Linked DNA regions of Homo sapiens. The protein of the gene in region 2 interacts with the protein of the main gene of each other region in a pairwise test. Each region holds a gene or a part of one and is shown on either strand. Other genes may lie near its edges. The genes, in order: APPL1, MEOX1, CIAO1 and PAGE3.

Evidence for each region.
Region 1: the proteins of MEOX1 (region 2) and APPL1 interact in binary tests that used the Homo sapiens proteins (3 or more experiments, as listed by UniProt).
Region 3: the proteins of MEOX1 (region 2) and CIAO1 interact in binary tests that used the Homo sapiens proteins (3 or more experiments, as listed by UniProt).
Region 4: the proteins of MEOX1 (region 2) and PAGE3 interact in binary tests that used the Homo sapiens proteins (3 or more experiments, as listed by UniProt).

The regions. Positions count from the first base shown.
Region 1 is NC_000003.12:57,223,051-57,231,636, reverse strand, and holds the start of APPL1 (DCC-interacting protein 13-alpha), read right to left. Parts: upstream 3,909-8,586; 5' UTR 3,754-3,908; coding exon 3,700-3,753; intron 924-3,699; exon of another isoform or gene 873-923; coding exon of another isoform or gene 870-872; intron 1-869. UniProt on the Homo sapiens protein: Multifunctional adapter protein that binds to various membrane receptors, nuclear factors and signaling proteins to regulate many processes, such as cell proliferation, immune response, endosomal trafficking and cell metabolism.
Region 2 is NC_000017.11:43,651,366-43,659,533, reverse strand, and holds part of MEOX1 (homeobox protein MOX-1), read left to right. Parts: intron 1-8,168. UniProt on the Homo sapiens protein: Mesodermal transcription factor that plays a key role in somitogenesis and is specifically required for sclerotome development. Required for maintenance of the sclerotome polarity and formation of the cranio-cervical joints.
Region 3 is NC_000002.12:96,269,002-96,275,618, reverse strand, and holds the end of CIAO1 (probable cytosolic iron-sulfur protein assembly protein CIAO1), read right to left. Parts: intron 6,352-6,617; coding exon 6,264-6,351; intron 4,509-6,263; coding exon 4,268-4,508; 3' UTR 1,446-4,267; downstream 1-1,445. Other genes in the region: SNRNP200 (U5 small nuclear ribonucleoprotein 200 kDa helicase), read left to right, coding at 270-362, 464-607. UniProt on the Homo sapiens protein: Key component of the cytosolic iron-sulfur protein assembly (CIA) complex, a multiprotein complex that mediates the incorporation of iron-sulfur cluster into extramitochondrial Fe/S proteins.
Region 4 is NC_000023.11:55,261,347-55,269,796, reverse strand, and holds the start of PAGE3 (P antigen family member 3), read left to right. Parts: upstream 1-4,880; 5' UTR 4,881-5,251; intron 5,252-5,871; exon of another isoform or gene 5,872-5,885; 5' UTR 5,886-5,893; coding exon 5,894-5,977; intron 5,978-6,437; coding exon 6,438-6,546; intron 6,547-8,450.

The DNA.
Region 1 (8,586 bases), on a different chromosome or scaffold from region 2:
GTCTTGCTATTTGGCCCAGGGTGGTCTTGAACCCCCACCCTCAAGTGTTTACAAGCATGAGCCACTGTGCCAGGCCAAGGCTCTTTTTTAGGTAGCAACTGGCAGGCCACTTTTGATTAGATCTAAATGATCTAAAAAAAATTAAAAACTAATCAAACAAAAAACTTTTAGGGCCTGGTACAGTGGCTCACATCTGTAATCCCAGCACTAAGGCCAGGAGTTCAAGACTAGCCTGGCCAACATAGTGAAAACCTGTCTTTACAAAAAAAAAATTTTCTTTTTTTTTTTTTTTTTTTTTGAGACGGAGTCTCGCACGGTTGCCCGGGCTGGAGTGCAACGGTACAATTTCGGCTCACTGCAACCCCCGCCTCCCGGGTTCAAGTGATTCTCCTGCCTCAGCTTCCCGAGTAGCTGGGATTACAGACGTCCACCACCACGCCCGGCTAATTTTTTGTATTTTTAGGAGAGACGGGGTTTCACTATGTTGGCCAGGTCGGTCTCAAACTCCTGACCTCGTGATTCACCTGCCTCGTCCTCCCAAAGTGCTGAGATTACAGGCATGAGCCACCACGCCCAGTCTTCTACAAAAAATTTTTAGATTAGTTGGGCTACTTGGGAGGCTGAGGAAGCAGAATCACTTGAACCCGGGAGGTGGAGGTTGCAGTGAGCCAAGATCATGCCACTGCACTCTAGCCTAGGCGACAAGAGCGAAACTCCATCTCCAAAAAATAAAAATAAAATAAAATAAAATTAGCTGAGCTTGGTGGCGTGTGCCCAGGAGTTTGAGGTTTCAGAGCTATGGCTGTGCCACTGCAATCCAACCTACGTGACAGTGAGACTCTGTCTCAAAAAAAAAACAAAAAACTTACCATGAGCTTTAAAAGTCTTCATATTCTTTGCTGCTCTGCTTCTTGGACTCTATTCTAGATAAAATAGTTCAAACTGAGAAGAAAATTTATGCTCCAAAGCATTAATCTCAGCCCTATTTATAAAAGCAAAACTTTGGGAAAACTCTAAAAGTCCAGCAAAGGGTTGTGAAATCAGTTAAGGAAATGTGTGGTCTTCAAATGTTTTTATTTGGAATGTAAAAACATGTGAAGATACTTAAGTGATAATGTTAAGTTAAAAGCAGGATAAAGATCATTATGCACAATATAATCTCAATTCCATTAAAACATGTAGAAGAAAAAAAAAACAGTAGAATAAAGAAAGCAAACTGTTAATAAGGTTTTGCTGGGTAACCAACAGGTAATTGTGTGTTATTCTTTTCTGGACCTTCCAATTTTTCTGAAGGAAGCAACTATTATTTCTTTTTAATCAGGGTCAAAAATAAAAACATGTCATTAAGACACAACAGCTGAGGTTCAGAGAAGTTGAATGATTTGCCCTAAAGCAGAAGGTAGTAAAGTGGCAGTGATGACTAAAAACCTCGTCAACCCTAGATCCAAGGCTTTGCATTCTGCCACAGGTTCGACCTAAGAATCACCTCCAAGTATGTACACTTCCTAAATCCCAGTTGTACCAATTAATTTTCCCAAGTAAATTTTACCTAGTTCAAATTTATTGCCTTTCAACATTGAAGGGATATCAATGTGTCTACTTCATTAAAAATTAGCTGGCACAGGCCAGGCGCAGTGGCTCACACCTGTAATCCCAGCACTTTGAGAGGCCAAGGCGGGCAGATCACCTGAGGTCAGGAGTTCGAGACCAGCCTGGCCAACATGGCAAAACCCCGTCTCTACAAAAAGTACAAAAACTAGGTGGGCGTGGTGGCACACGTCTGTAATCCCAGCTACTCAGGAGGCTGAGGCATGAGAATCACTTGAACCCGGGAGGCAGAGGTTGCAGTGAGCCAAGATTGCAACATTGCACTCCAGCCTGGGCAACAAGAGCAAAACCCCGTCTCAGGAAAAAAAAAAAAAAAAAAAAAAAAAAAAGCTGGCACAGTGGCACACGCCTGTATTCCCAGCTGCTAGGGAGGCTGAGGCAGGAGGATCACTTCAGCATAGGTGTTCCAGGACACAGTGCACTACGATAGTGTCTGTGAACAGCCATTGCTCTCCAGACTGGGAAACATAGCAAGATCCCCATCTCAAAAAACAAACAAATATATTGTAAAACGGACACTAGTATGATGCATGCTTGTAAAGAAAAAAAAAAACCACAATTCTTAAGTTGTAAACTAATCTGGCAAAAACCTCAAGACATTAGATGAGTCAAGAGTTTATCTCTGCCTCACAAGTCATTTCCAGGGCAGTGTGCAATCCATTCTGAGCCGTTTATAGTCTTTATGGGCTATTAAAAAAAAAAGCCAAGTAAGAGAAGAAAGGTAAGGCAACCTGTTGAATCTTACATAATAAAAAGTAAAATGACAAAGTACACCTGACCAATTCCACAAACTTTTTGCAAATCATCTGAAACAAATACAGTTTATAACTTTATATGGAGAAATCATCAAGAAAAAAATTGAACCGAGTATACTGGCAGTCAAGATAAACCAAATGTGAGTTTCTCTTTTTGTCACTATCAGCTGTTAAGAGTACATTAGCAGCAGGCAACTGGCCTGTGAAGATAACTTTCAGAATAAAAAAGAACAAATCAATTCTACAATCAGAGCCCCATTTCAACTTGGCAATTAACATTGGCACAAAATCCATGGCAGAAGTGCCATCCAGGAAAAGGAGATCTAGACCTCTTCTGCTTTTCTTCTTTGGGGGCCATGTTCAACTGTAAAGACACACGAAATGGTGCAACTGCATTTCTAAATCAGCAACAATTCAGAAATGTTTCATTCTAAATAGTGTCCAACCAGCAACACCGTCTTAAACCGTTTAAATTATCGTGTAAAACGGCTTAGAGATGAAGTTTTCCCTATGCAAGTTACAGCCCCTGCCAACATTTTAAAAAATATAGCTGCTTTCATTCTGCAGTACTGAAAACATATTAAATGGTTACATTTTCCAAAACTGTCTTAAGCTAGAGCAACCACATCAGCATCATTCCGACGCACAGAACACAGGGCTTTTATTTTGATGAGTTTATTAAGGCCAAGTCTGCAGGGAGCAGCGCAGCAGTCGCGGAGCGGCGAAGGCACCGTCCATCCCTCGCCGTGCACAGCTCGAGTGACAGCGACCACAGTCACGGCCGCGACACGGGCACATTCGGCGGGGAGAGCGGTCTTGGGCTCCGGGACCCGTCACGGGCTTTGCCATTAGGGCTCCACACACAACCTTACAGCCTCTCCCAAAGAAAAACGATCCATTTCCTTCCTTAGCTTGCTGAGCCTCGGAAATCATTAAATAAGACTATCGGGGTTTCTCTCCCTTCTGCAATTTTTCTGAAGAGGTTCTCAGGGAGAAAATTCCAGGATCGAGATTTGGCACCTCACATCACCGCGATAAAAACGGCGCCTTTCGTCAAATAAAAAGGACCCGCGCGCGTACGTGACCGCCCGGCCCACGAGCACCAGCGGCTCGGTCTCCGCCTGCGGCCCTCGGCCCAGCCGAGCAGGCCCACGCGGGCCTTGGGCGGCGGGCCCAGCCTCCACAACTCCGGGCGCGGCCTGCGACGGGCGGTGACCTAGGGCGGCGGCGGCCCCCACCTGGGCCGGGGCGGGCACCTGCGGGAGCCGCGGAGGCGCCAGACCTGGGGTCGGCCAGCTGGGCTCTCCCTCGTCGCCCACCAGCTCCCGCGCCTCACCTGCGGGCTGTCCTCCAGCGTCTCCTCGATGGGCAGCTTGTCGATCCCCGGCATCGTGGCGGAGGGAGGGCGGTGGCAGGAGACGCAGCTGCCGCCCACAGCTCCCCGCGCCGGCCCGCCCGCCGCAGCTGACCCCGGCCCGCCCTCTCCGGCAAGGGCTGCAGCCGTCCCCGCCCGCACAGCCTTCTCCAGGCGCCGAGCGGCCGTGCGGGAAATCCCGCCCCCTCGGCCTCCCTGCCCCGCCTCCCGGCGCGTCCATTGGCTCCCGGGGACGCCCATCCGCGCTGCGGCGGTGGTCGGGAGGTTCCCGTGCGGCGCTAGGCTCTCCCGCGAGCGCGGGCGTCGGAAGCGGCGGAGGTGGCAGTGTCTGCCCTGGGATGGCCTTCCCTGCACGCGCGCGTTTGTATCTAAATCGCAGGGGACCGTCTCTTCCTCAGCTTGCCGGCGCGAGGAGCCAGAGCCTCGAGTTAGGGCCACACGGGGGAATTTGGGGCGGGTTGACTTTTCCCGCAACATATTTTGTCAGAGACCTTGGAGAAAGTCCTACTGCTGGCGCCTTTTAGTTTCCTCAGATGATAACATTCCCAACTCCGCTCGAAGCGTCCAGTCTTAATCCCCTCCAGCAGAATGGTGCTGACTAACTCAGATGTCTGAGATCCGCAGCTGTGTCAATAATAGGGCTTTCTGGCAAACTTGTGAACGTAGGCTCGAAATTGTTTTTCTGGACGCTTGAATATCAGTATATTCAGTTGAAAACATGTGATTTTGTTGCCAGTTTATCAGTTCCTACCTGGCCTCCCGAGGTCAGTCCTTCAGGACTGACGCTGCAACTCCAACTCCCATGTTTCTTTTAAATCACAAAGGAAAATATCTTTTAAAAATCAGGATACACTGATTAATTATGTTAGTAACTAATTGGCATTTGTTGAATCAAAAAGTTTTGGAAGCGTTAAATAGTTTTAGCCTCTAATTTTACAATAAAGTGAAGCTCAAAGTTGGGAATTTGACCGGATGAGGGCTACAAGCCTATCCTTTCCTCCTCCCTCTTCATCTTTCCCAACCTGTCACCCTGGCTCGTTTATGTCTCTGTATAGTTGTAGGCTTTCATCATTATACAGAGAAAATAACAAAGTAAGTAGTGTCTTCTAAACATCTAGCCATTAATTCCACCAATCCATTCCATTTTCATTCAAGAAATACCAGAGATGCTGAGTAAAGATTAATTAGCTGCCTGGTTCCACAGATACATGGGAACAAATCCAGAATAGTAGTAGCTCAAATCCAAATATAGTAACAAATAGAAGTTATATATTTTAAACGAAAATAGTAGATTTTCCCATGATCTCTTGAAAGAAAAATAAAATTATATTTTTAAAGTTTTGTTGAGTAGACTTGCATTGTAGTTTTACGGAATTATTTTTAGTGTTACAATCTTTAAAAGTTTTCCCCTTAGATTGTTTATCAGCCAGTCTCTCTCTCCCGAAGAGTTCTTTAGTTTTTGAGGAAGTTGATTTGGAGGCAGTTCTTACAATGAGTTAAGGGTTCCCAGTTGTGTTACAGTTTCTTTTTCCTTGATATCTCATTTCTACTCTGCCAACAAGAACACCATGCACCCCAGCTCTAAAGAAGGAAGACTTTCAAGGTAAGTGACCTTCCTGATTGAACTGAGTTAGATTTTAAATGAAGAAAGGTTGTGGCAACTGTTAAGAATCAGGAGTAAGTGAGGAGTGTAAACAATGTATAAGAAAGAAAAAAAAAAAGGCCTGGCGCTGTGGCTCACGCCTGTAATCCCAGCAATTTGGGAGGCCGTGGCAGCTGGATCACCTGAGGTCAGGAGTTCAAGACCAGCCTGCCCAACATGGCGAAACCCAGTCTCTACTAACAATACAAAAATTAGCCGGGCGTGGTGGCGTGCCTGTAGTCCCAGCTACTCAGGCGGCTGAGGCAGGAGACTCAGTTGAAGCCGGGAGGCCCAGGTGCAGTGAGCTGAGATCATACCACTGCGCTCCGGCCTGGGCGACAGAGCAAGACTACGTATCAAAAAAAAAAAAAAAAAGAAAAGAAAAGAAAAGTATTTGTTACCTAATTAACTTGGCCAAACCAAATAATTCCGATGAAAAATTCGATTAGTTATCTGAATTATCTGGGTGTGGTATTGTCAAGTTAAATGGTTTCCTTCTTAGTATGTTATGTACATCTAAACTGTGTTTCTGTAAAGGACTCTCAAGAGGCCATTACATTATCGCAGAATGGCAAGGAATTCTTGCCGGACTCAGCTGGTTAAAAAATAAAACAGGCTGGGCGCGGTGGGGCTCACGCCTGTAATCCCAGCACTTTGGGAGGCTGAGGCAGGCGGATCAAGAGGTCAAGAGATGGAGACCATCCTGGCCAACTGGTGAAACCCCGTCTCTACCAAAAATACAAAAATTAGCTGGGCATGGTGGCACACGCCTGTAGTTCCAGCTCTTTGGGAAGCTGAGGCAGGAGAATCGCTTGAACCCGGGAGGTGGAGGTTGCAGTGAGCCGAAACTGCACTCCAGCCTGGGCGACAGAGCGAAACTCTGTCTCAAAAACAAAAAATAAATAAAAATGAAAAAATAAAACAAACAAAAACAGGTTCACATTCAGTTGGATGGAGAGGTAGGTTTAGTCAAATCTAGTTTTAACCTATTTGTACTAGAATCCAGTTTTAACCTTCCATTTGGATTCTCTAGCTTTAGGCCACTGTATACCCTGCTCATCCAAAAATATGGTTGTATTTCCTAAGTTAAAACATCTCCAAAGCTGCAAAATTCATAGTCCTTTTTGATAACCACTTTAAGTTTATTCAGCCTACGTTTTGTGCAGTTAACCAAACTCAGTTCATTTTAAGCCAGTTTTCTTTCATACAGGAAATGAGGCTTGTTCAGAGAATGCCTTAGGGGTTACTGGCGACTCGTGTGGGTAGTAGAGTAAAAACTTTGGGCAACTGGTTAATTTTATGGAAAGCAAGTCAGGATTAAACAACATCCACTAAAGATTTCTTTGAGATGTTTCACATATATACCTTGAGACATTTCACACGTATAATTTACAACAAAAGGACGTACAGTCTTGTAAATAGAGTTGTTAATTATTAGTCTCCTAAAATTATATTTGGTCTTATAATTAGGTTTTTACATGATACTCCTTGAAGTTCTGGTCTGTGATCTGTAATAGGAAAGAATCCAATAACCCAAGTGATGCTGGTGCTTTACTTTTAAAAATTATCCCTTTAGGTCAGTGGTTTCCAAACTTAATGCACACATAAAAGTTATCTGGGAAGGTTGTTAGCATACAGATTCCTGAGCCCTGCTGGAAGATTTTGGTGTAGTAGGTCAGAGTCAGGGCTGGGAATCTCTCCAGTTAAGTCTGAAGTGGGTAATCCACAAACCACATGAGGAAAAACTCTATCCAAGATGGAGAATGATCATTTCCCTTTCCTAAATCACTTTGTATTTAAAAAAAATTTTTAAAGAGTCAGGTGGGCACAGTAGCTCATGCTTGTAATCCTAGCACTTTGGGAGGTCAAGGTGGAAGGATTGCTTAAGCTCTGGAGTTTGAGACTAGCCTGGGCAACACAGAGACACCATCTCTACAAAAAAAAATTAAATTAAATTAAAATTTTAAAAAATTGGCCTGGTGCAGTGGCTCATGCCTGTAATCCCAGCACTTCGGGAGGCCGAGGCGGGTGGATCACCTGAGGTCAAGAGTTCAAGACCAGGCTGGGCAACATAGTGAAACCCCGTCTCTGCAAAAATTAGCTGGATGTGGTGGCAGGTTCCTATTATCCCAGCTACTCGGGAGGCTGAGGCAGGAGAATCGCTTGAACTTGGGAGGCGGAGGTTGCAGTGAGCCGAAATCACACCACTGCACTCCAACCTGGGTGACAAAGCGAGACTCAGTCTAAATTAAAACAAAAATTAACAAAAAATAAAGAGTCAAGCAAACATTTAGAAAAGGAATCCTAGATTCCAGCTAAGGATGGTGAGGACATGATTTCCAGGCTAACGAGCTGGAAACCACCTACTCACAAATATTCTCTAAAAGACTCCATCAATCTAAAATTCTGGGAAATTCATACTCCTTTTAAAGAGTGTAATGTATAATGCAAAAAATTCTGGTTGTTACCTAGTAAATCACTCCTTAATAGGACTAACTTTAACAGATAATTCATTATTTTCTTAATACCAGCTGAGATAAAGCAGATTCAGGAAAGAGCAGATTTCAAGAAAATTGATAATTTGGGAACTTCAGTCATTTAATCTATTTTAAAACATTAGAGCCAGTAGCAGAGTAGGGGGAAGCTTTGGACAATTGGAGGGTAAAACAAAAAGTTCTGAGGAATGGGTTGCAAAAAGAGGTGGGAGGGCACTAAGGACCAACTGGTTGGTTCTTCATTGTGCCACTGCAAACTAGCTTCTGCCTTTGACCTTGACCTTGATGTCACTTTTACTCATTGCCACAGCATCCTTAGAATGTGGGACAATTCTGCAGCTTCAACTTTCTTGATGGTAAAAAGAAAAAAAAAAACTTCTAGGAAAATTGTATATGCTTTTGTTTATCTATGGTTGCCTTGATTCCTTTTTAGAAGAACACATTAATTAATTTGTCTGAGCAGGCCAAGAACTTTAACACAAAATAGCATCATAGCCCTTCTGTGGAGAGGTAGATGAGAACATGGTTATGAGCTAATAAGCTTGGGCTGTGATTTAAATTCTGGCTCCACTGTTTAGTAGCTCTGTGACTTAAGTAAGGTTATTTAACTTCTCTGTTTCTCCATTCTGCCATCTGAAAAATGGAGCTTAATACTAGAGAACTTACATTAATAGTATTGTTAAGATGATTAATGAGCTTTTAGAGTAGCTC
Region 2 (8,168 bases):
ACCCCAGGCTTCAGGCCCCCGGTATCACCCCCTTCAGTAGATTTCAAATGCAGTCCTCATTTTGAAATGATGTTTGGTCTGTCTGCTTGAAGAAGCCCCTTCTTCAATGGGAGATAGGAACTCTAGCAGCCCTCATGGCTGCTAAATAGAAGGGCCCTTTAAACCGCCAGCCAGTTAGATCCCCATCCCGAAAATTAACTCATCCTGCCCCTGGTAGGAAATGTGCTAAGGATGAGAAGCAACTCTCAGCGACTTGGCTCTGAACCTGGTTGAAGAGCTTTCCCCTTGGTGGCGGCACGCAGCACTGTGGCTCCTTCCTCTCTGCCACTTTCCAGAGAACTGACAGCCAAGGGCATTGGGAAGGGATAGCAAAGCCAAGAGCCTGCTGGGCTCAGGCAGAATCTTCCAGCATTCCGAGTCTCAGCAAAACCCAAATGCACCAGCTCTCTTTTTGGCGAGTGGCCGATGGCCCTGCAATGCAGAGAGACCATTCACACTAAGCAGCTGGCCACCCAGGAGTACAGGGACACCCTCGGCTGAACGGCCTGCATGCTTCAGGGTCAGACTTTGGTGGAGGGAGGTTCCCATCCGCAGGGGCCCTGGGCTTCCCTAAGGGTCCCCTCAGGAGCACCAGCAGCAGATGAGGCAGGGCCCAGTGAGCTGACTCTCACTCATCCCCCTGTGATTCCAGACAAACTCACTGTTCAGCATGGAAATCTTTATTGCCGCAATGCTTGCATCCTCCTTTGGAATTTAACTGAAGGGGAGGAAGGAGGCAAGAAAGATCAGCTTTGTAAGAGCCCAAAGAAGGGGGAAAGTGACGCAAGGCTCATGACCTACTCCAGGAATCTGGAATTCAGCTCAGAAAAGGCAAACCCACAGAGAGCCCCCCACCCAACCCTGCCAATCCTGAGTCTATAATTGGATCCCCTCTCCAAAATTGTGATATTTTGTTCATTATCAATTTTTTGCATTACTTTTGATTTTTACAAATATTGCCTTAAAATATTCTTTTTTTTTTTTTTTTGAGATGGAGTCTCACTCTAACGCCCATGCTGGAGTGCAGTGGCATAGTTTCAATTCACTGCAACCTCTGCCCCTTGGGTTCAAGCAATTCTCCTGTCTCAGCCTCCTGAGTAGCTGGGATTATAGGCGCACGCCCCCTCTCCCGGCTAATTTTTGTATTTTTAGTAGAGTCGGGGTTTTACCATGTTGGTCAGGATGGTCTCAAACTCCTGACCTCGTGATCAGCCCACCTCGGCCTCCCAAAGTGCTGGCATGCGCCACCGTGCCCGGCCTTCCTTAAAATATTATTGATCTTGACTACAGAGGGGTTGGGCATGCCCTTGCATTTGGGCCTCCCCAAGTCCAGGCTGAGTGGTCCCTGGAAGGTTAACCAGCATTGATCAGAAACGCGTTTTCCATAGTTCTTCCCAGCCAGACAGACAGGCTGCAGTGTCAGCACGGCAACTTTTGGCTGCATGACTTTGGAAAAGTTCATAACTTCTTCCAGCCTTTGTTTCCCTGGCTGTAAAATGGGCATATAGCAGTAGCCCCTTCCATAGAGAGTCTCTCTGTGAAGGTTAGATGCAGTGATCCATGAGATTAACTCTGTGCCTGGCACATAGTAAGAGTTCAATAAATAGCAGCTGTAAATGGTATTAGGCCCATATTTCCTGAACCAGCCTTCAGAATATAAGGTCTGACAAATATTTCTATATTTATGGGGATGGTGGAATTGAATATTTCAATTATGCTGTCTCAGAAATTCCTGAGTCTAGAGAACTTCTGGCAATCATTTTGTTCCAGTTGTCATCAGGAGCATGGAGCTCAGAGACCTGCCGGAGAGGTTATGGGGTGAGTTGGGCCTGGCAAATGCACCCCATATTGAGTGGCTGAGAAGCCTCCAGAAATGGAAAGTTTATTGTAAGAGGAATGTTCTCTGCGCTTCCTTCCTCCTTTGCCATCTCCTTCAACTGCTCCCCGCTCACTCCCAGTAGAATCTGGAGCTGATCTACTCAAAGAAATTATCAAGAAAGCAAGGGTTGGCCGGGCGCGGTGGCTCATGCCTATAATCCCAGCACTTTGGGAGGCTGAGCCAGGCGGATCACCTGAGGCCAGGAGTTCAAGACTGACCTGGCCAACATGGTGAAACCCTATCTCTACTAAAAATACAAAAAAAAAAAAAAAAAATTAGCCAGGTGTGGTGGCAGGCACCTGTAAATCCCAGCTACTTGGGAAGCTGAGGCAGGAGAATAGCTTGAACTTGGGAGGTGGAGATTGCAGTGAGCAGAGATCACGCCACTGCACTTCATTCAGCCTGGGTGACAGAGCGGGACTACATCAAAAAAAAAAAAAAAAAAGAAAGAAAGAAAGAAAGAGAGAGAGAAAGGAAGAAAGGAAGGAAGGAAGGAGACAGAGAGAAAAAGAGAGAAAGAAAAAGAAAGAAAGAAAAGAAAGAAAGAAGGAAGGAAGGAAAGAAAGAAAGAAAGAAAGAAAGAAAGAAAGAAAGAAAGAAAGAGAAAGAAAGAAAGAAAAAGAAAGAAAGAAAATGAACAAACGGGGAGAAAGAAAGAAAGCAGGGTTCCTGGCCTTTGGCACTTCCCCACCCTGGAGACCAGCATGGTGTTATCTTACCCAAACCACTCCCAGCCCCAGGCCAATGGGGATTAAAGACCCCTGCTGGCAGGGACAGCTGTGAGGCCACTGTTGTTTTCCCCCAAACTGTCCTTGCTACTGTGGTTGTCTTTAATTTATGGGAATGAAGGATTTTGCGGTGGTTTCCTCATGGGGTTCAAGGGAAGGTTGCGTGTGATTAGAGTGGCTACAGGTGAATCCGATCGCCCGCCTGGGAAAGCCATGGTGCTAGAACTCAGCACTGCTCCCTCCTGCTCTCACGTCCTCACTCTGCTGAGACATGCCTTTAATCAGACGTGATTTGTCTCATCCTTCTTCAGCTCCAACACGTGTGTTCCCAGAGCTGTCCTGCCCCAATTTCTCTTTGCAAGACCTGCTCTATGCCTGCCTCCGCCCAACCACAAATTTGCCTAAGGTATAAAACTCCACAAATAGGCCTCTCTCCTCTTTTCCCTCCTGATGCCCCTTTACAGGCCACCTCCCCGCCCCAGGTCCCCTCCACTACCCCTGCCACGAAGCCACACCCAGGGACTGACCTTGCAAACACATCCTGCATTTTCTTCCCCCTCTCTGACTGTGCTCTGGTGGTTTCTCCTTGCCTAGAGCACTCTCCCCTTCCCCGTACTTCTGCCTGTTGAAGTCCTACTTAAAAACCACCCAGCTCAAAAACAACCCCTTCCAAGAATATTTTTGTTCTTCTTTTTCAAAAATTTATAGCTACATTTGCATATAACATAGTATCAAAGAAAGCTACAGTTAAGAAATGTCGAAGTCTAGTATCTGCTAGAATCTGTGTTGATTTTCTCACTTTAGCTTGCAGTTGTTTCATAAAGGAACTCTTCTGAGGTTTCTTACCTGGGACATCTTATATTTGAAATCTCCTTTTTTAAAAATTGGGGTCAAATACACATAACATAAAAGTTACCGTCTTAACAGTTTTTAAGTGATACAGTACAGTAGTTGTGCAATCGATTTCTAGAACTTTTAATCTTGCAAAACCGAAACTCTATCTCCATTAAACAACGACCTTTTTTCCCTTCCCCCACCCCCTAGCAATCACCATTCTTTCTCTTGCTAAACATTTGACTATTTTAGATACCTTACATAAGTGAAATCATGCAATGTTTGTCATTTTTGTGACTGGCTTATGTCACTTGGCATAATGTCCTCAAGTTTCAACCAGGTTGTAGCAAGTGACAGGATTTTCTTCTTTTTTTTTTTTTTTTTTTTTTTTTTAGAAAGACAGGGTCTTGCTATGCTGCCGAGGCAGGTGTTGAACTCAGGGCTTCTAGCAGTCCTCCCACCTTGGCCTCCCAAAGTGCTGGAATTATAGGTGTGAGCCACCATGCCTGGCCTCCTTCTTTCTGAAGACAATAACATTCCATTGTATGGATATACCAAATTTCTTTCTTCTTTTTTTTTTTTTTGAGACGGAGTCTCACTCTGTTGCCAGGCTGGAGTGCAGTGGCGCGATCTCGGCTCACTGCAACCTCCGCCTCCCGTATTCAAGTGATTCTCCTGCCTCAGCCTCCCAAGTAGCTGGGACTACAGGCACACGCCACCACGCCCAGCTAATTTTTGTATTTTTAATAGAGACGGGGTTTCACCATGTTGGCCAGGATAGTCTCAATTTCTTGACCTTGTGATCTGCCTGCCTCAGCCTCCCAAAGTGCTGGGACTACAGGCGTGAGCCACTGTGCCCGGCCACCAAATTTCTTTATCCATTCATCTGTTGATGAACATGTAGGTTGCTTCCACCTCTTGGCAGTTGTGAATAATGCTGCAATGAACATGAGTGTGCAAATACCTCCTGGAGAGTGTATTTTCTTTTTCTTTTTCTTTTTTGAGACGGAGTCTCACTCTGTCACCCAGGCTAGAGTGCAGTGGCGCGATCTCAGCTCACTGCAAGCTCCGCCTCCCGGGTTCATGCCATTCTCCTACCTCAGCCTCCCGAGTAGCTGGGACTACAGGCGCCCACCACCACGTCTGGCTAATTTTTTGTATTTTTAGTAGAGACGGGGTTTCACTGTGTTAGCCAGGATGGTCTCAATCTCCTGACCTCGTGATCCACTGGCCTCAGCCTCCCAAAGCACTGGGATTACAGGTGTGAGTCACTGCACCCGGCTGGAGAGTGTATTTTCAATTCTTTTGAGTGTATACCTAGAAGGGAAATTGCTATATTATGTAGTAATTATATTTTTAATTTTCCAAAAAAATTATTTATTATTAGAATAAAATATAGAGACAGGGGTCTCGCTATGTTGGCCAGATTGGTCTTGAACTCTTGGCCTCAAACAATCCTCCTGCCTCGGCCTTCCAAAGTGCTAGGATTACAGGTGTGAACCACTACACCTGACCATATTTTTAATTTTTCCTTTTTCTTTTTTTTTGAGACAAGAGTCTTGCTGTTGCTCTGGCTAGAGCACAATGGCGTGATCACGGCTCACTGCAATCTCTGCCTCCCAGGTTCAAGTGATTCTCTTGCCTCAGTCTCCCAAGTAGCTGGGATTACAGGCGTGTGCCACCACACCTGGCTAATTTTTGCATTTTTAGTAGACAGGGGTTTTACCATGTTGGCCAGGCTGGTCTCGAACTCCTGACCTCAGGTGATCCGCCCGCCTTGGCCTCCCAAAGTGCTGGGATTACAGGCATGAGCCCCTAATCTCCCCTTCTTATAAGCATATCAGGCAGATTGGATTGGGACCCACCCTAACAGCCTCATTTTAACTTAATCCCTTCTTTAAAGGCCCTATGTCCAAATACAGACACACTCTAAGGTACTGGGGTTAGGGCTTCAACATAGGAATTGGGGAGGGAAGCACAATTCTGCCCTTATAGGGACTGTACAGGACTGTACGGGGACAGGAACAAGGGACAAGGTTCAAACTGTGGCACAGACCCTTCAGTTGAAAACCCCTTTAGTGAAAGCAGCACCCAGATGTGTGCCTGACCCCAGAGCTTTCCTAGCTCAGGGTCCTGTCGGCTGGTAGAGCTTTTCCACTGAGACAGGAAGTTGTTTCTAGCCACAAGCAGATCCCTGATTTCCTATCTTACACCAACAAGTACAGACATAAAAAGTGGAGGCAGTTGGCCGGGTGCGGTGGCTCACGCCTGTAATCCCAGCACTTTGGGAGGCCGAGGTGGGCGGATCATGAGCTCAAGAAATCAAAACCATCCTGGCCAAAATGGTGAAATCCCATTTCTACTAAAAATACAAAAATTAGCTGGGCGTGGTGGCATGCGCCTACAGTCCCAGCTACTCAGGAGGCTGAGGCAGGAGAATCGCTTGAACCTGGGAAGTGGAGGTTGCAGTGAGCTGGATCACACCATTGCACTCCAGCCTGGGTGACAGAGCCAGACTCTGTCTCAAAAAAAAAAAAAAAAAGTGGAGGCAGTTTTAGGAGTGAATCTCTAAAGAAGGGAGCTGTTTGACAGAGGAAAGGAGAAAAGAGGCATGGGCTGGATGCGGTGGCTCACGCCTGTAATCCCAGCTATTTGGGAGGCCAAGGTGGGTGGATCACTTGAGGTCAGGAGTTTGAGACCAGCCTGACCAACATGATGAAACCCTGTCTCTACTAAAAATACAAAAATTAGCTGGGCGTGTTGGCTCACACCTGTAGTCCCAGCTAATCAGGAGGCTGAGGCAGGAAAATCGCTTGAACCAGGGAGGTAGAGGTTGCTGTGAGCCAAGATCGTGCCACTGCACTCCAGCTGGGGAGACAGAGTGAGATTCCGTCTCAAAAAAAAAAAAAAAAGGCAATGGTAGGCTGGGCACGGTGGCTCACACCTGTAATCCCAGCACTTTGGGAGGCTGAGGCTGGTGAATCACGATGTCAGAAGATCGAGACCATCCTGGCTAACACGGTGAAATGCCATCTCTACTAAAAATATAAAAAAATTAGCCAAGCGTGGTGGCAGGCGCCAGTAGTCCCAGCTACTTGGGAGGCTGAGGCAGGAAAATGGCGTGAACCTGGGAGGCACAGCTTGCAGTGAGCCGAGATCACACCACTGCACTCCAGCCTGGGCGACAGAGTGAGACTCCGTCTCAAAAAAAAAAAAAAAAAAAAAAAAGCAATAGTAGAGATGAGAATGAAATAAATGGACAACCCCAATAAGTGTCACCTGGGTCGCCAGAGTGATGCCAAGTCCCATACAAGTGACCTCATGCCCATGCTCACCTTCTTGCTGGGCCACGGTACAGTAATAGGAGGAAGGGTGGTCAGAGACTAAGGTCAAGCGAATTAACAAGGTAGCCCTGGTTCAGGTCCCTGATCCACAACTTCCTGGCTGTGTGGACGTGGGTGAGTCCTAACCCTCCCTGAGTCTCTTCTGAGAAATGAGGGTAACAGTACCTACTTCATAAGGTGGGTAGCTGTGAGACTAAATGATATCAGAGATGTAGAGTCCACAGCCAACACTTGGTAACCCCTGGCTCCAGTTTTCCCAAACCCACATATGAGCACCCCTCTCTCTTTAAAGTCCTCCCCTGATGCTGGCTGGCTGCATCAGGTTTCCCACGTTCAAAAACAGGCCAAAGTGTCCTGAGCTCTGCTGAAGTCTTTGCCCCCTGCTGTCAGCCGGGCCTGCCTGACTCTGACGATGCTACTGGCTTAGGGTTGTGGCAGTGCTGGGTGGGGTGTGGTTTGAGGGGTGCACCGCTGCAGCAGCTCCTCTTGTCCCGAGTCCATGTCCAGAACCCCTAGTGAGGAAGAAGTTTTATGGTCCAGAGTGGCCAGCGTGGGAGGGGAGACAGCAACTCCACACTCAGCCAGTATCCCTCTGGGCATCCCCGGCCTCCTGATTAGAGCTCCTGACCTCCTCTTCTGACAAGCAAAGAAAGCTCAGAGCCCAAAGCAGGACCCAGGCCTCGGCCACCATCTGAACTCAGAGGCTCCAGCACAAATCCCACGCCTGGGCCTGCTCAGGCCCCTGATCAGGTATAGTCGGAAACTCTGGAGAAAGTCCGTTTCTGCTGAGGCAGCAGGATCCTGACCAACATCGAAGAGGGAAAGATCCAATGAGCCCGTGAGCTGTAAGAAGGTCAGCCCAGGGGTCACCTCAGCTCTGCTCCGCCACTCTCCCATGCTAGGGACTCAGGATTCCTGCCCGCTCACCTATTTCTCTGGCTTGAATAAATCACGGGCACTTGGGCCCAGGGAGGGGGGATAACTCAGAGGCAGAGAATCCTTTCTGCCTGAGAGACAGGACTCACAGCCCCTGCAGACCTCCAGAGCTGGCCCTTTTCCCCAACTCCCTCTCTGCCCATAACTTGGGCTTCTCACCCAATTTGGCTCCCTGGCCTCTGGCCAGGACCCACCCCCTTCCTTTTCTTTTCTTTTTTTTTCCCCCTTGTTTTTCTTGCATGCAGAGGTACAGGAACAGCGTGAGCAGTGGGCCTGGGTCTCAAGCCCACACTTCCTTTGGTGACAGCTGAGGGTGACATATGGAACTTATAAACAAAACCCAGAACTACCCATGCCTCTCCCCATCCCCTCTTGAAAGCTGCTGCGCTTCCCCCTCACCAACCCACC
Region 3 (6,617 bases), on a different chromosome or scaffold from region 2:
TGGACTTAGTGGCAGGTACTAAGTGGGAGAAGGTACCTTGGCACAAGGAAATGAGCCAGAACCAACAAATGAATTCATCTACTTAAAAAATTAAGTCTGTTTGAGACAACTTTTGATAGTATTAAAATGTTAAATCTAATTGTATTTCGGGAAGAAACTTTGGAAAGCTATCTGATTTTTGTTCTCTCTTTTGTAACTGTACCATTTTCATGGTTGCCTATGGTCATCAAGTTTTACATGCTGAAATTCTTGGTTTTGGATCACTGCAGAAACGTGAAGAGGGCTGGTGGGTGGTGATTGGAGATGCCAAGTCCAATAGCCTCATCTCCATCAAGAGGCTGACCTTGCAGCAGAAGGCCAAGGTGAGTGTGTCCACTGGCCCTAGCATTTGTTCTGGCATGGGGGAAGGGTGAGAATGCTTCCTGTGTCCATGCTCATCTTGATTTCTGCCTGCTCTTTCTAGGTGAAGTTGGACTTTGTGGCCCCAGCCACTGGTGCCCACAACTACACTCTGTACTTCATGAGTGACGCTTACATGGGATGTGACCAGGAGTACAAATTCAGCGTGGATGTGAAAGAAGCTGAGACAGACAGTGATTCAGATTGAGTCCTGAGGCATTTACTTTTGGGTAAAGGAGAGTTGAGCCTGAATTAGGAATGTGTACATTGTAGGAATCCTGGTTGTGGGGACCAGGTCTGTGGGCCTCAGGTCTGGCCAGCCAGGGCTGGTGCTGTCCCCGCCTACCTCCACTTCCTTTCCCTTGCTCACTCTGGATCCAGTGACAGCAGGTGTCATGGGTCAAGCATAAATCATATATAGCATTTTCAGGCATGTTCCTGGTAGTTCTTTTGAGTCTGACATTCTAATAAAATAATTTGTAGAAACCATTTGTCTTTGTAGTGATTCCAAATTAAAAGTTTTCTTTCTCCAACCTGAGGGCACGGCCAAAAAGATCTGGTTATTTTTTAGCCAGGAACGTGCTTGTTAATGAGTATGTCTGGAGGACAGACCTGCTCATTAGGTGTGCTGTCCCCTGTAGCCTCGTGAGTCAGCCCAGAGGAGGGTACATGCGACTGTGGCCTGGCCTCAGTGGTACCCACACATCAGCACTACCACAAGAACCAACACTGAGCCTCGGAAGCTAGATCACAGGTTAGGGGTTTCTCTAGATGGGGGTTCTGAAATTTGCAGTGTCTGCTCCTGGGAGGCAGCACCAGAAAGGGCACTGAAATGTACTAGCTGGATGTGACCCAGTCTTAATAAACAGGTTTTCTAATCCAGATCTTCCGACTGTCTTCAAATTCTTACCTTCTGTTCTTTAGATTAAATGCACACAAAATTGAAAGATGATTCTGAAGGGCAGTTTCCTCAGGGTAGCAGTTTTCAAATGATTTGGTCTTAGGACCTCTTTACACTACTAAAAACTAAGAAACTCAGGTTTTTGTTTTTTTTTTTTTCTTTTTAAATAACAAATTTATTTTTCACAGTTCTGGAGGTTGCCCCAAAAAGCTTTTATTATCTAGATTAAGGTTAATGCACTTTTAAATCATAATGTTAACATTTTTTTTCTTAATAGAGACAGAGTTTAGCCATGTTGCCCAGGCTGACCTTGAATTCCTGAGCTCAAGTGATCCGCCCACCTCAGCCTCCCAGAGTGCTGGGATTACAGGCATGAGCCACCATGCCCAGCCCACGTTAACATTTTTTATGAAGAATAACTTCCAAAACAATCCAAGGAGAAGGGTGGCATTTTACAGTCTCTTTAGTATCTTGTTATAATAAACAGTTGAATTCTTACAGCTGCTTCTACATCCAAACTTTTTTGTTGAAGTAAGTTGACTTCACACAGATACGCAGTTGGAAAAGTTTTTAAAATAGCCTTTTCAGCTAATTGTGGCTATTCTTTGATACCACACCAAGACTACAAGTGATTTTTTTTTTTTTTTTTTTTTTTTGAAATGGAGTCTCGCTCTGTCACCCAGGCTGGAGTCCAGTGGCACGATCTCGACTCACTGCAACCTCCACCTCCCGGGTTCAAGCTATTCTCCTGCCTCAGCCTCCCGAGTAGCTGGGACTACAAGGGATCTGCCACCACGCCCGGCTAATTTTTGTAATTTTAGTAGAGACGGACTTTCACCATATTGGCCAGGCTGGTCTTGAACTCCTGACCTTGTGATCCACCCACCTTGGCCTCCCAAAGTGTTGGGATTACAGGCGTGAGCCACCGCGCCCGGCTTACTACAAGTCATAGTTTCTTAAAGGCAATGTAGACTCCGAAAACTTAATGCACTCTTATATTGTTAATACATTAAAATCCACTGGCCTGTCTTACACTTTTGAATCAATCTTTGAGCCATGCATGATTTTGTAACATCACGTACTGGTCACTTGGAAAAATGGTTCATTGAATTCTTCCAAATGAAATGCATTTCATTATACAAATCACATTTGTTAATATCCCCAACAATAAAGCTCATGGTGGAGTACAGATTTTCGGAAATTCCAATTTTTGCTTGAAAGCTTTATCACTGGCAACACTATCAGTTGTTTCCCTTGAGGTGAGAGGCTCATTCCATTAATTTCCAGAAAATATCAGCCAAATATTCAAGTCTAAATACCGTAATCTGCTAGTTCTTTCAATTCTAAAGGGCATGCCTTGAACACAGCCAATTCAGCTTGCAACTCAACTGTGTAACTGCTTTTCCTCAAGGCACCCATACTTCAGTGCACAGCAGAGGGGCTTTATGCATGCTTCCAGTTTTCTCAGAATATTATAAATTCTCAAGGTCAACTTTTTTTTTCTTTTTGAGACAGGGTTTCACTCTTGTTGCCTGGGCTGGAGTGCAATGGTATGATCTCGGCTCACTGCAACCTCCACCTACCGGATTCAAGCGATTCTCTTGCCTCAGCCTCCCGAGTAGCTGGAATTACAGGCATGCACCACCATGCCCAGCTAATTTTGTATTTTTAGAAGAGACGGGGTTTCTCCATGTTGGTCAGGCTGGCCTCGAACTCCCGACCTCAGGTGATCCGCCCGCCTCAGCCTCCCAAAGTGCTGGGATTACAGGCATGAGCCACTGCGCTGGCTAGGTCAACATTTAATAGTTAACCATTGCTATTTGTTCTATCAAGGACATATCAAAACTACTAGAAGTTTGCTGCCACCACCTTGATTCATGCCACAGTGCCAACAGTTGACCTCACAGATCCTCCCTGAAAGGGTCTTGGGACTCCCAGGATCTGCAGGCCGCATTCTTCGAGAACCACTATTCTAGGTACAGCCCCACTGTCCTTCTAAAATCTAAGGTCACAGCTTAAACTTCAGGGAAGGCTGTAGTTTTGGAGGCCATTGTCACATTAGAACCCATTTAGAAGTGACTGTCAAGAGACAACTTGAGTGAGTCTGAAACTGCCTGCTGATGGCAGTGTTTCTCAACTGGTTTAAATCGCCAGTCCCCTAGGAAGCCTTCTTCCTGATCACTCCCTGCCATGAAAATGGAATATCACAGACACACTATATGTGCTGTGGGCCTTAGGAGGGCCACAAACAACTGCTTGTGATTTTTTTTTATCCTTACTGAAGAACCAATTTGCATCCCTGTTGAGAATACAGGGCTTGTGGCCAGTAATAACTCTCCCTTTTAGGATTCCTGTCTTTCCCCATTTTTTTTCTATCCCCAGTTGCCATCACAGCGTAACGGTGCAGGGAGGTATATGAGGGTTGCTAAGGGAAAGCAGAGGTGCCCCTCACTCAAACCTACATTCAGAAAAAAATTTCCTTCATTATTGATTGGATGTCTTAAATGCAAAGACTTACACAGAAACTGGGAAGGGAGGACCTATTTCAGACAAGGATTCACCATGGAATTTTTATGAATATCCTTATAAAATAGGACTTGGGATGCAGATGGATTATTTCTTTAAGTCTTGCAACTTCAGAAAAGCCTGAGACACATACCCCCTCCTACTATATATAGTGATTATAAATAGTATATTTACCTCCAAAAAATTTAACACTGTGCCCTAATGCAAGAAAAATCTGTGGTATAACAATGTACTCATGTTCTGTAGCTCTTTACTGAAGGCCTCATGTCAAAGGCGGGGAAGGAAAGCAATTCTGTGGCTCTGCACTTCTACCCAAGTCTGAAGAGAAGTGAGCCAAGTTAAATGAAGGTCAAGGATGCTCCTCCTGGTCCTCTCAGGGGCTGGTAAAGTCTTATATGACGTTTTCTGGGGAGTCATTACTCTGTCCAAAGTCGAGGTAGCTCAGAGGCCTTCAGGCCGCTGATACTTCCAGAAGGCCACCTCCCCATCATCACTGCAGGAGGCCAGTAGCCCTGGCTCCTTGGGGTTCCAGGCCACACAGTTGACATCCTGGGAATGGGCCTGATGCAAGTGGGCTGTCAGGGAGAAGGTGGGCTGCTGTGGATCCGAGTTGGGATCCTCCTGAAACACGCGGATCGCGTCATCCCCACAAGCTGTGGCCAGAGCCCCTGTCAGCTGACACCTGGAAGGAAAGTGACATCAGTGGGTATACCTGACTAATTAGGCCAGAGAGACCTGTTCCATAGTTCCTGGCCTGTTCTCTTCCCTAACTTCAGGCCTCAGCTAAAAACCTCTTATTAAAATGTTTCCTTAACTAATAAGGAGTCACAAATATCACCCACTTATATCTTCAGATGCTGCAATCTAGTTCTTTCCCCTACTATGATTATCCTAAAAAACGACATGCAATTATGAACTGCACTTTCCTCACTTGGCATAAGCAGTTTCCCATGTCATAAAGTTGTTTTTTTTTTTTTTTTTTTGAGATGGAGTCTTGCTGTGTCGCCCAGGCTGGAGTGCAGTGGCACAATCTTGGCTGACTGCAACCTCCCCCTCCCAGGTTCAAGCGATTCTCCTGCCTCAGCCTCCTGAGTAGCTGGGACTACAGGCATGTGCCACCATGCCCGGCTAATTTTTGTATTTTCAGTAGAGACAGGGTTTTATCACATTGGACAGGCTGGTCTCAAACTCCAGACCTCAAGTGATCCACCTGCCTCAGCCTCCCAAAGTGCTGGGATTACAGGCCATGAGCCACTGGGCCCAGCCATCATAAAGTTTTTTTTTTTTTTCTTTAGATGGAGTCTTGCTCCATCACCAGGCTGGAGTGCAGTGGCGCAATCTCGGCTCACTGCAACCTCCGCCTCCCGGGTTCAAGCGATTCTCCTGCCTCAGCCTCTGAGTAGCTGGGATTGGGTGCGTGCCAACACGCCCAGCTAATTTTTGTATTTTTAGTAGAGACGGGGTTTCACCATGTTGGTCAGGCTGGTCTTGAACTCCTGACCTCATGATTCACTCACCTTGGCCTCCCAAAGTGTTGGGATTACAGGCGTGAGCCACAGCGCCTGGCCCCATCATAAAGTATTCTTAACCCCTTTCTTTAAACAGTGATACAACAAGCTGAGTTCTACCATAATTTACTTAAGTTCACTTTTGTTGAATAGGTGATTCCCAAATGTTTGCTAATATAAAGCAAGCTTAAGTGCTCAGTTTTTTTCACTGTTTTGGATTTCCTAGGGATCAATTCTCAGGGCCAGAACTACCCTCTAACCTACTCTCCTATATGAATGGTGCAGCTTTTCCAGCTTCCACAAGGCCAGAGTCAGTGTTACCTATAAAAACCCCAGCCACTGCCAGGTGCGGTGGCTCATGCCTGTAATCCCAGCACTTTGGGAGGCCAAGGTGGGCGGATCATGAGGTCAGGAGATCGAGACCATCCTGGCTAACGCGGTGAAACCCCGTCTCTACTAAAAATAAAAAATTAGCCAGGCATGGTGGCGGGCGCCTGTAATCCCAGCTACTTGGGAGGCTGAGGCAGGAGAATGGTGTGAACCCGGGAGACGGAGCTTGCAGTGAGATGAGATCACGCCACCGCACTCCAGCCTGGGCTGCAGAGTGAGACTCTGTCTCAAAAAACAAAAAAACAAAAAAAAACCCTCAGCCACGAATGCAGATTCAATAATAACTTCTGGACAGCACGAGCTGTGCGAACCTCTAGCGCTGGTGCTACCCTCACAGCCTGGGACTGTTCTCTGCTCCTGTGAATGCCAGCCCAGCCAGCTGTAAACCAGCATGGTAGAGTCAGGCCTGATAAGGAATGGGGGTGGCTGCCCTCAATTCCCAAGCACTCCCCCAGGGTTGCAGAGGACTGCATAGGGTATGCCTTCTCTAAAATCCCTGATTTATGGGGATGGGATGGGGTGGGGGGATGGAGTCTTACCAAGCAATGTCATAAATGGTCCTTGAGTGGAAGCCGGACAAAGTACAGATACATTTCCAACTGGGGTCAGAGCCGCTGCATGCCACCCCTGCAAGACAGACTTCTCTTGCCCTTAAACGTTCCTATGTCCTGGGCACCTCAAAGGAGAACCTAACTTACCTTCCCTCACCCTCATCTTCAACTGATTATGAGTCTGTGTCTCCGTTCGTGTCCCCATCCCTGCTTATCTGCCTTACACACTATAGCCAGACTGGCGTTTCTCAAGCAGAATTCCGAGGAAACATCCCTGTTCTGTTGCAGACTGTATGTAACTACTTTGCGTGCCTGTGAAGGCCACCCACCAGCCGACCCAAC
Region 4 (8,450 bases), on a different chromosome or scaffold from region 2:
AGGGACCCACTTGAGGAGGCAGTCTGTCCATTCTGAGATCTCCAGCTGCATGCTGGGAGAACCAGTACTCTCTTCAAAGCTGTCAGACAGGGACATTTAAGTCTGTAGAGGTTTCTGCTGCCTTTTGTTTAGCTATGCCCTGGCCCCAGAGGTGGAGTCTACAGAGGCAGGCAGACCTCCTTGAGGTCCTGTGGGCTCCACCCAGTTCGAGCTTCCCGGCAGCTTTATTTACCTACTCAAGCCTTGGCAATGGCTGGTGCCCCTCCCCCAGCCTCACTGCCACCTTGCAGTTTGATCTCAGATTGCTGTGCTAGCAATGAGCGAGGCTCCGTGGGGGTAGGACCCTCCAAGCCATGCACGGGATATAATCTCCTGGTGTGCCATTTGCTAAGACTATTGGAAAAGTGCAGTATTAGGGTGGAAGTGACCCGATTTTCCAGGTGCTGTCTGTCTCCCCTTTCTTTGACTAGGAAAGGGAATTACCTGACCCCTTGTACTTTCCGGGTGAGGCAATGCCTCACCCTGCTTCAGCTCACGCTCAGTGCACTGCACCCACTGTCCTGCACCCACTGTCCGACACTCCCCAGTGAGATGAACCCGGTACCTCAGTTGGAAATGCAGAAATCACCTGTCTTCTGTGTCGCTCACGCTGGGAGCTGTAGACTGGAGCTGTTCCTATTCGGCCATCTTGGTTCCTCCCCGTGGCATTACACTTTCTATTTTGCTTTTAAAATATTTTATTTAAGTGCTTATTTTTGTTTAAGTCAATTAGTTAGAGCTCTTTTATATAAACATTACACACAACACTTATATAGCTACACAGAAAGACAGAAGACGATTACTACAGTAGTTGTAAGGTTTTTCATTTGCCAGTTTTTAAGTTTCTTAATTGGATTACTGGCTTTAGCGTGTAGCCCTTGGAAGAACAGGGCCAGGAAAGGGGTCTCTGGTGCCTCCTGTTTTTCCCAAGGAGTCTTGGCTGTTAGAGCTTGAACATCTGCTTTTAGCACGTTTTGATAAAGTCCTTTTAGTATTTCTTATGCCAAACCGCCAATATTTCTGGTTTTTGAATTTCTCCCAGGTGCTTAGAGAAAGGAAAATTTAAGACAGTCCATGGAGGAGAACATAATTGACAAACTTACACAACATTAAACCAGAAACGACTTACTTCCTAGGTGAGGAATACGAACTCGGACCACCACTGCGAAAGTCCCATACCTTAGCTAGTGAGCTACAGCTCACAGTAGTCTTCAGCTTCTTTCCCAGAAGGAGTCTAGAGCAGTTAATTTTGAGCTTGCAAAGGCTTTTAACTATTCAATATGGTTTTTAGAGCTAACTATGACATGAACCTAAAATTCCTGGTCCCTGAATGTGGAGACCAAACAAAAGTATGGCCACGTGGTTAAAAGGTCAAGCTCCCAAGGACATAAAACAACGTGAATACTTAATCTGGGTTTTTTGTTTGTTTGTTTCAGGGACCCGCAGCCAAGGTAGTTACTGACCAGCTTTCTGGATCATCTTGAAAAACAGGTTTACAGGTGTTCTAAGCCCATGTTTTATCCTGAAGTATCCCTCGACACAGAAAAACGAATTCATAGCACAAAACACACCAGCTTAAGACTAGTCTTAGAATTCTTTTTCACATTAATCAAAACTTTACAGAGGAGATAAACACTAGCTTGTTTCTTTAATTCATTCAACCATTTACACAGAGAAAGAGAAGCCAGAAATCTGACTGGTAAGAAATTCTTACCCTTTTGTCGGCATGCCAGGCTTCTGGGTTCCCTTTCCCTGAGCGGCCCTAGTGATCCGGCTTGTGGCACCATCGCCCTGGGGGCCAAGCTGCATCATAAAGGAAAATTATTTTTTTTCATTCTGGCTGGAGCAAACTACATGTGATAGAACATAGACATTAGCCACTCTGCTTAGCACCCAATATCAAACTGGCAAGGCTTAAATTTGCCCCCAGATGGGCTCCATCATCTTTAATCCAACCTCTGACTTGGAGTTTCAACACGTGGTCTCTGGGCAAGATGGTCACCCTGAATAATAGAAAAGATAAGAAAGGGGGCCGGGTGCAGTGGCTCATGCCAGTAATCCCAGCACTTTGGGAGGCCGAGGTGGGCAGATCACAAGGTCAAGAGATGGAGACCATCCTGGCCAACATGGTGAAAGCCCCGTCTCTACTAAAAAAAAAAAAAAAAAACTTAGCTGGGCATGGTGGCACGCACCTGTAGTCCCAGCTACTAGGGAGGCTGAGGCAGAAGAATCACTTGAACCCGGGAGGCAGAGGTTGCAATGAGCCAAGATCATGCCACTGCACTCCAGCCTAGCGACAGAGTGAGACTCCGTCAAATAAATAAATAAATAATAAGAAAGGGAAAGGGAAAGGAAAAGTAGAGAAGGAAAGTATTGCCTGTGGTAGGGTGGGGAAGGCAAAATGATCAGGGAGGCCAGAGAAAGACCCACCCATTGCAGCGACATTGAAAAGTTCAGGCGGCTACTGTCAGTCAGGCAGGGATCTTTTTCAAGCAGTCCCATCAGCTCTCAAGTTTCCCCTTTTGGAGGAGGAAAAAGCTCCCCATGTCCCTTAATCCTGCACATGCCTAATCCTGTCATCTACAGCCATCAGCAAAGAGTGCAAGGCAGATTAATCCAAAGAGAATAGCAGTTAACATCCTATAGTGCCGAACCTGTTCTTAGCTGAGAGGGACTTTACCAAGAGGGGCCTCTAACTCCCTAAATCTTAGAAGGGACTCTAACCCTCCTAAGTTGGGCCTGTAACCCAAGGTCAGTCAAGTGTCCTTGCCTTTTATTAAGAGGGGCCTCTAATCCACTCTGTCTTAGGAGAGACTATAACTCCCCTAAGTTGGGCCTCTAACCCAATCCCATCCTTTAGCCTGCTCCCCTGCCACTTACCCAAAGTCATCCAATCAGTGCTGCAGTCTATTTCCTTTGGATTGGGGAGGTTTCTTCAGTATTGTCCTTTTTGTGGTTCACGAGAAAGATGTTACCGGACCCCACCACTTACCCAAAGTTAGCCTTTGGGTTGGGGGTTTCCGCAGTATAATCACTTCGGTGGTCACCAGAGAGATGTTACAGGACCCCAACACTTACCCAAAGGTAGCCATTGGGTCAGGGTTTCTTCACTATAGTCCCTTCTGTGGTGGCCAGAAATATGTCCCAGGAAAGGGGACCCGACCCCATGTCCCAAGAGAGGGTTCTTGGATCTCACACAAGAAAGAATTTCAGGGCGAGTCCGCAGTGCAAAGTGAAAGCAAGTTTACTAAGAAAGTAAAGGAATAAAATAATGGCTACACCATAGACAGAGCAGCTGCACTTGTCTGATTAGTGGTTGTACTCATGTATATATGTTTCTGCACTTGTCTGATTCTGCCTAAAAACTTTCTCTTTACTTTAGAAGATCAGTTTATCAATTTCTCCAAAAAGAACACCCTCTGGGATTTTGATTGGAATTGCTTTGAATCTATAGCTCAATTTGGGGAAACTGTATCTTAAGCATATTGACTCTTTTGATTCATGAACAAGATATATCTCTTAATTTTATTTGGGTCTGAAATTTTCACTCAGCCATCTTTTGTACTTTTCAATATGTTATAGGTCTTGAATTTCCTTATTCAGATTCATCCCTTAGCAGTTAATATTCTTCGATACTATAATGCATACTATTAAAAATGCCAATCCAAGTTTGTATTGCTGATGCACAAAAATACAATTAAATTTTGTATATCGATTTTTAATTCTGCAACTCACTTGTTTCTAGTAACTGTTTTATAGATTCTATCAGATTTTCTACACGAAAGATTATGTTATCTATGAGTCATACAGTTTTACTTCTTCCTTTTCAATCTGGATGCCTTTTATTTCATTTCTTGTCTCATTGCACTAACTAGATTCACCAGGACAGTGCTGAAGAGAAGTGAGTAGGGCTGATATCCTGGCCCTTTTCCTTATCTGTGTGTGTGTGTGTGTGTGTGTGTGTGTGTATTATATATATATATAACATTGTGTGAAAAATTGATTCACACAATTATGAAGACTGGGTCCCACAGTCTGCCATTTACAAGCTAGCAGGAGACCAGAAACCAGTGATGTACTTCAATTCAGATCCGAAGGCCTGAGAACTAGGGAAGCAGATGGTGTAAATCCCAGCTTGAGGGCAGGAGATGTGGACTGAACATAAATATATGTGTGTAAACATGTATGTTTGTACGTGTGTGTGTGTAGGCTATGTGTATATCCTAAATGCAGTTCTGATGATTTCTATTTTATTTTATTGTGTTTCTTTAAAATGCTGTTCGTTGCTCATTACATTAAAGATGCAAATTACATTTCATCAACAACTATGTATTTTGTGGTAACCCTAGTGGCCCATATCAAATATGTCCTTTTTGTCTAAAAACAATGCATCTTTAAAGGTTCACATTAAACTTCAGATAACAGTGTTTGTTTTTCAAAAGGCAAGAGTTAGTTAATACAAACTAGACCTCAGGAAAAAGGATCAACAGGTACAGGTGCCCTCTTGTTCACTTGCCATCCTGTGTAAGGCTGTCCTTGGGCTGGGCCTGGGGTGCAGTTAAATGTCATGTATTTATGATCCCTCTTCCCTCTATTTATGAGGGAAGTGTGAGAGTTGTATTGGGCATGATAGTTAATTTGACCTCGAGCCTCAGGGACCCTTACTTTAGATGTCAAAAAGTTTAGGAAGGAAAAGTAAAAGAGCTGTGCAAGCCCCTTTCAATACTCAAGAAACCTTGTGGCTCCTAGTCAACAGAGGCAAGAAAACCTCAGCCTACGTAACACAAGCTGCATCCCTATGCATGTCCGTTGCTGGGCATGTCCATTATTGCGCATGTGCCTTGCTGTCTGCTGTCTGCTGTCTGCTGTCTGCGCTCAGAGCTCTGCCCTGAGAGGTGGTCCTCCTGTCCTCTTCATTCTTTCTCACTGACTGGGACTCAGCTGGTAGGTCCGCAGATCAGTCCTCCTGGGAATTTAGTTGTGAGTGAATGTGAAGGGGAGCCAGCGGGCTTTGGACAGGTCCTGCGGCACAGAAACCACAGTCCGTGGCTTCTGAGAGAAAAGGGCCTCGCCGTCGACGTCCGGCTCCTCCCAGGTCGCGACGCCCCATGGGCCTTTGTCGTCGTTTCTGGGCCAGGACGACGGAGGAAGGTGGACCGTAGAGGGGAGGAATCACGTGAAGATGGGGCGAGTGCTGGGCGTGCTGTTGGAGGTATCTGAGTGCCGAAAGGCCTGGAACCCTGAGAGGGAGGACAGATTCCCCAGTTCTTAACCGGGCAGTGGCAGGGCGAGGTGGGCAGTAAGGAAGGGGCCTGGAAACTAGGAACACTGCGGGCTGATAACCGCTGCCCCGAGGTCTGTAGAGCGCTCCACGGTGGCAGAGAGTGAGGAGCATGCCCTTCACTCGGCTTTGCAACTTCACACCTCCGCCACTGACATCTCGGGCAGGAATGGGAGAGGCTGTGCGTTCCAATAAAACTTGATTTTAGGGGGTAAATGGGCTGAGTAAATGAGAGTGGGGCAAAAGCAGTAGTCACTCCGGTTCCAATTCTCTACCTATATTTTCCTAGATATCTTCATGATGGAGAGTCTAATTGTGAAACCAAAACTCACAGAGAAGTCCTCTATCTTGCCATGAGCCTTGCCTGCTACCATAGCCATAACATTAATGACTTTGCAAGCAGCCATATTTGGCTAAATTAGATGATACCTAAAAATTTTTGAAAACATCTTAAAATTAAGTCCCAGGGTAATCGTGAGCTTGCATGCTTTCCAATTTAGCCATGGAAAAGGTCAAATGATACACTCTTATGTACATTTTCTGAATCACAGTATGCCACTTTCAGAGTGAAACATGAGTGGACATCAAAGAACAAGATCCAGATCTAGAGAAAGAAGAGATGATCAAGACTCTAATCATCCAGTAGGGGCTGTGGTTGTGAGTATTTTAACATTTGATATTTTCTATTAGAAACTTATTTTTGTGAAAATGTTGTTGAACTAATATTGATATATTAATAAGGTTTTCCATGCTTGTAAATGGTAATAATTGAATCTCGTGAAGTAAACATAGATTTGGATGTTTGCATTCTAATGTTGCCTGGATGGCTATGTTTTTATATTCCCCAGAAATATTCTCTATGGCTTCCTTCTCCTGCTTATTCATAACACATTGTATACATCAATTCCAGCCTGGATTCAAATAGCTTCCCAAGTTTTTAAGGGTAACTTTCTCTTGTAGTAACTATTAAGAATAAGTATATGTAGAATTGTGTAGGAAAAAAATGTCTTTAGACTTATTTATGGTAAGATATATTTGTATATTGAGTATATGTATATTATTGACATGCATTATTAATAACAGACCTTTTTATTTGCACACGCACTCATATTCCTAGGCCCAGGAGCTGCCCAGTAATGACCAGCTTCAACAAGAGGAACCACCAATTGAAAGTCAGGATTATACACCTGGTCAAGAGAGAGACGAGGGAGCACTGGACTTCCAAGGTGAAGCGTGGGAGAGGAAGAATGCCTATGAATGGAGGGGGTGTATGTATATATCATGTATTATGATATGGAAGTAAAAGGAGGAAAAAAGCAATAGAAAGAGATCTCAAACATTTCCTGAAAATTGGCTGGAAAAGTGAAGAAGGCATAGTTTACAGCCAAGGGCAGTCCCTTAGTATAATGCATTCGACCTTCAAGACTTACTTGTTATGCTTGCCAGAGCATTTCATTAGCAAATCCAGGGAAACTATGTTTAATTTTACTCCAAATTGTATACTATTTCACTAGTTAAACTTGATCTTAGAATATTGTCTGTCCTTCTTAGTAATTATATTAAAAGTTTAAGCAACTTTTAATAGCATGCGTAGAGTGCTAAGGCATTATACATATATTATAGATCACATATATATATTATATATATGTATATATATCTCATATCCACACTAATTCACACTTTGGATTAAACTAGCTTGCATCGAGATATAAATCTATATATGGTATGTGATATATATATTACATATATATATATATATATATATATATATATCATATGTAACACCTTGGATTAAATGAGCTTGCATAGAAATATAAATCCCACTTGATAAGTAAGAAAACTGAGACTCAGAGATTGTGTCTTACCAAAGGGCACTTCACTGGTGGAGAAATAATTTGTATATTATTCCAAAGTATGTATTCTTCTTACCATCTAGATTGCTGTAAGAAAAAGTGAATGATTTTGCTTAAACTGTTTAATACTAAAATGTCTATACTGTGAGATAGCTCAGTACTGGCATTGGAATAGACCCAATTCAGTGGAACAGAATGTGATTCCAGAGAATGACTCAATGAATGATAGCCACTGTTTACTTTGATTGAAATTTGTGTATGGAAAGTTTAGTTAATAGCTGAACAATTCAGGATATTGGCATATAGGTAGCTGGTTCAGTATAATTTTTAAGTGGTTTTAAAAGGTGGTTAAATCCTCTTATGGCTAGAAACATCAAAAGGTTATGTACCTACGATTATCATGAAACAATTAGTTCTTCCAGGTATGGCATTTTGGAGCAAAATATTTACATAGCTCAAGCCATAGATTATTTTAGCAATTCACTATTGAAAGAGTCCCAGAATTATGATGACAATAATACCCATTAAATTCTTTCCATTCCACTTCCCATTATTCTTGCTGGAAGTCAACGATTTTGCTGTATTCACAAATAATTTTGCTGTTGTTTTTACAACTTCATTATATATGGAATTCATTTATGGAAAGTAACATATAAGACCTTTGGACCTAAAAGTAACTTTATTTTAACAAAATAAGTTTCTTGTTACCCCAATAGGTTATGGGTGTCATGACTATAAGATATGTCATACGCTTACAAATCCATTCAGCTAATTCTTCATAAAATTATATTTTAAATGTAATTTAAATCTTATCCATGGTGTAAAGTTCTGATTTCCTGGATGGCTGATGTTTATTCCCCTTACAGCACTATGGTAAAATATAAGGACGGCACATGTTTTGTGGTTTGTCCTTATAATGTCATTTAAAATGGAGGTTTTTGTAATGCAGGAAAACAAATACATGAAGTCCAATCCATCTACAGCCATACCACCCTGAATGCACCCAGTCTTGTCTGAAGTCCAATCCTAGTTGCTGTTAATGTTGTCAAAAATAACTCTTGTCTTCCTGAACTCCAACATAGTTGTCATTTATTCTTTTTTATTTTTAATTTATGTTTTGTAAAAATATAAAATTTACAGAAAAGTTGCAAGATTATTATAATCAACTCATATGCTTTTCACCTAGATTAACTAATGTTTAGAGTTTTGCCACATTGATTTCATACCCACTATTCTATTATATAGCCATATTCTCTTGGATAACCCCTGTATGTTTA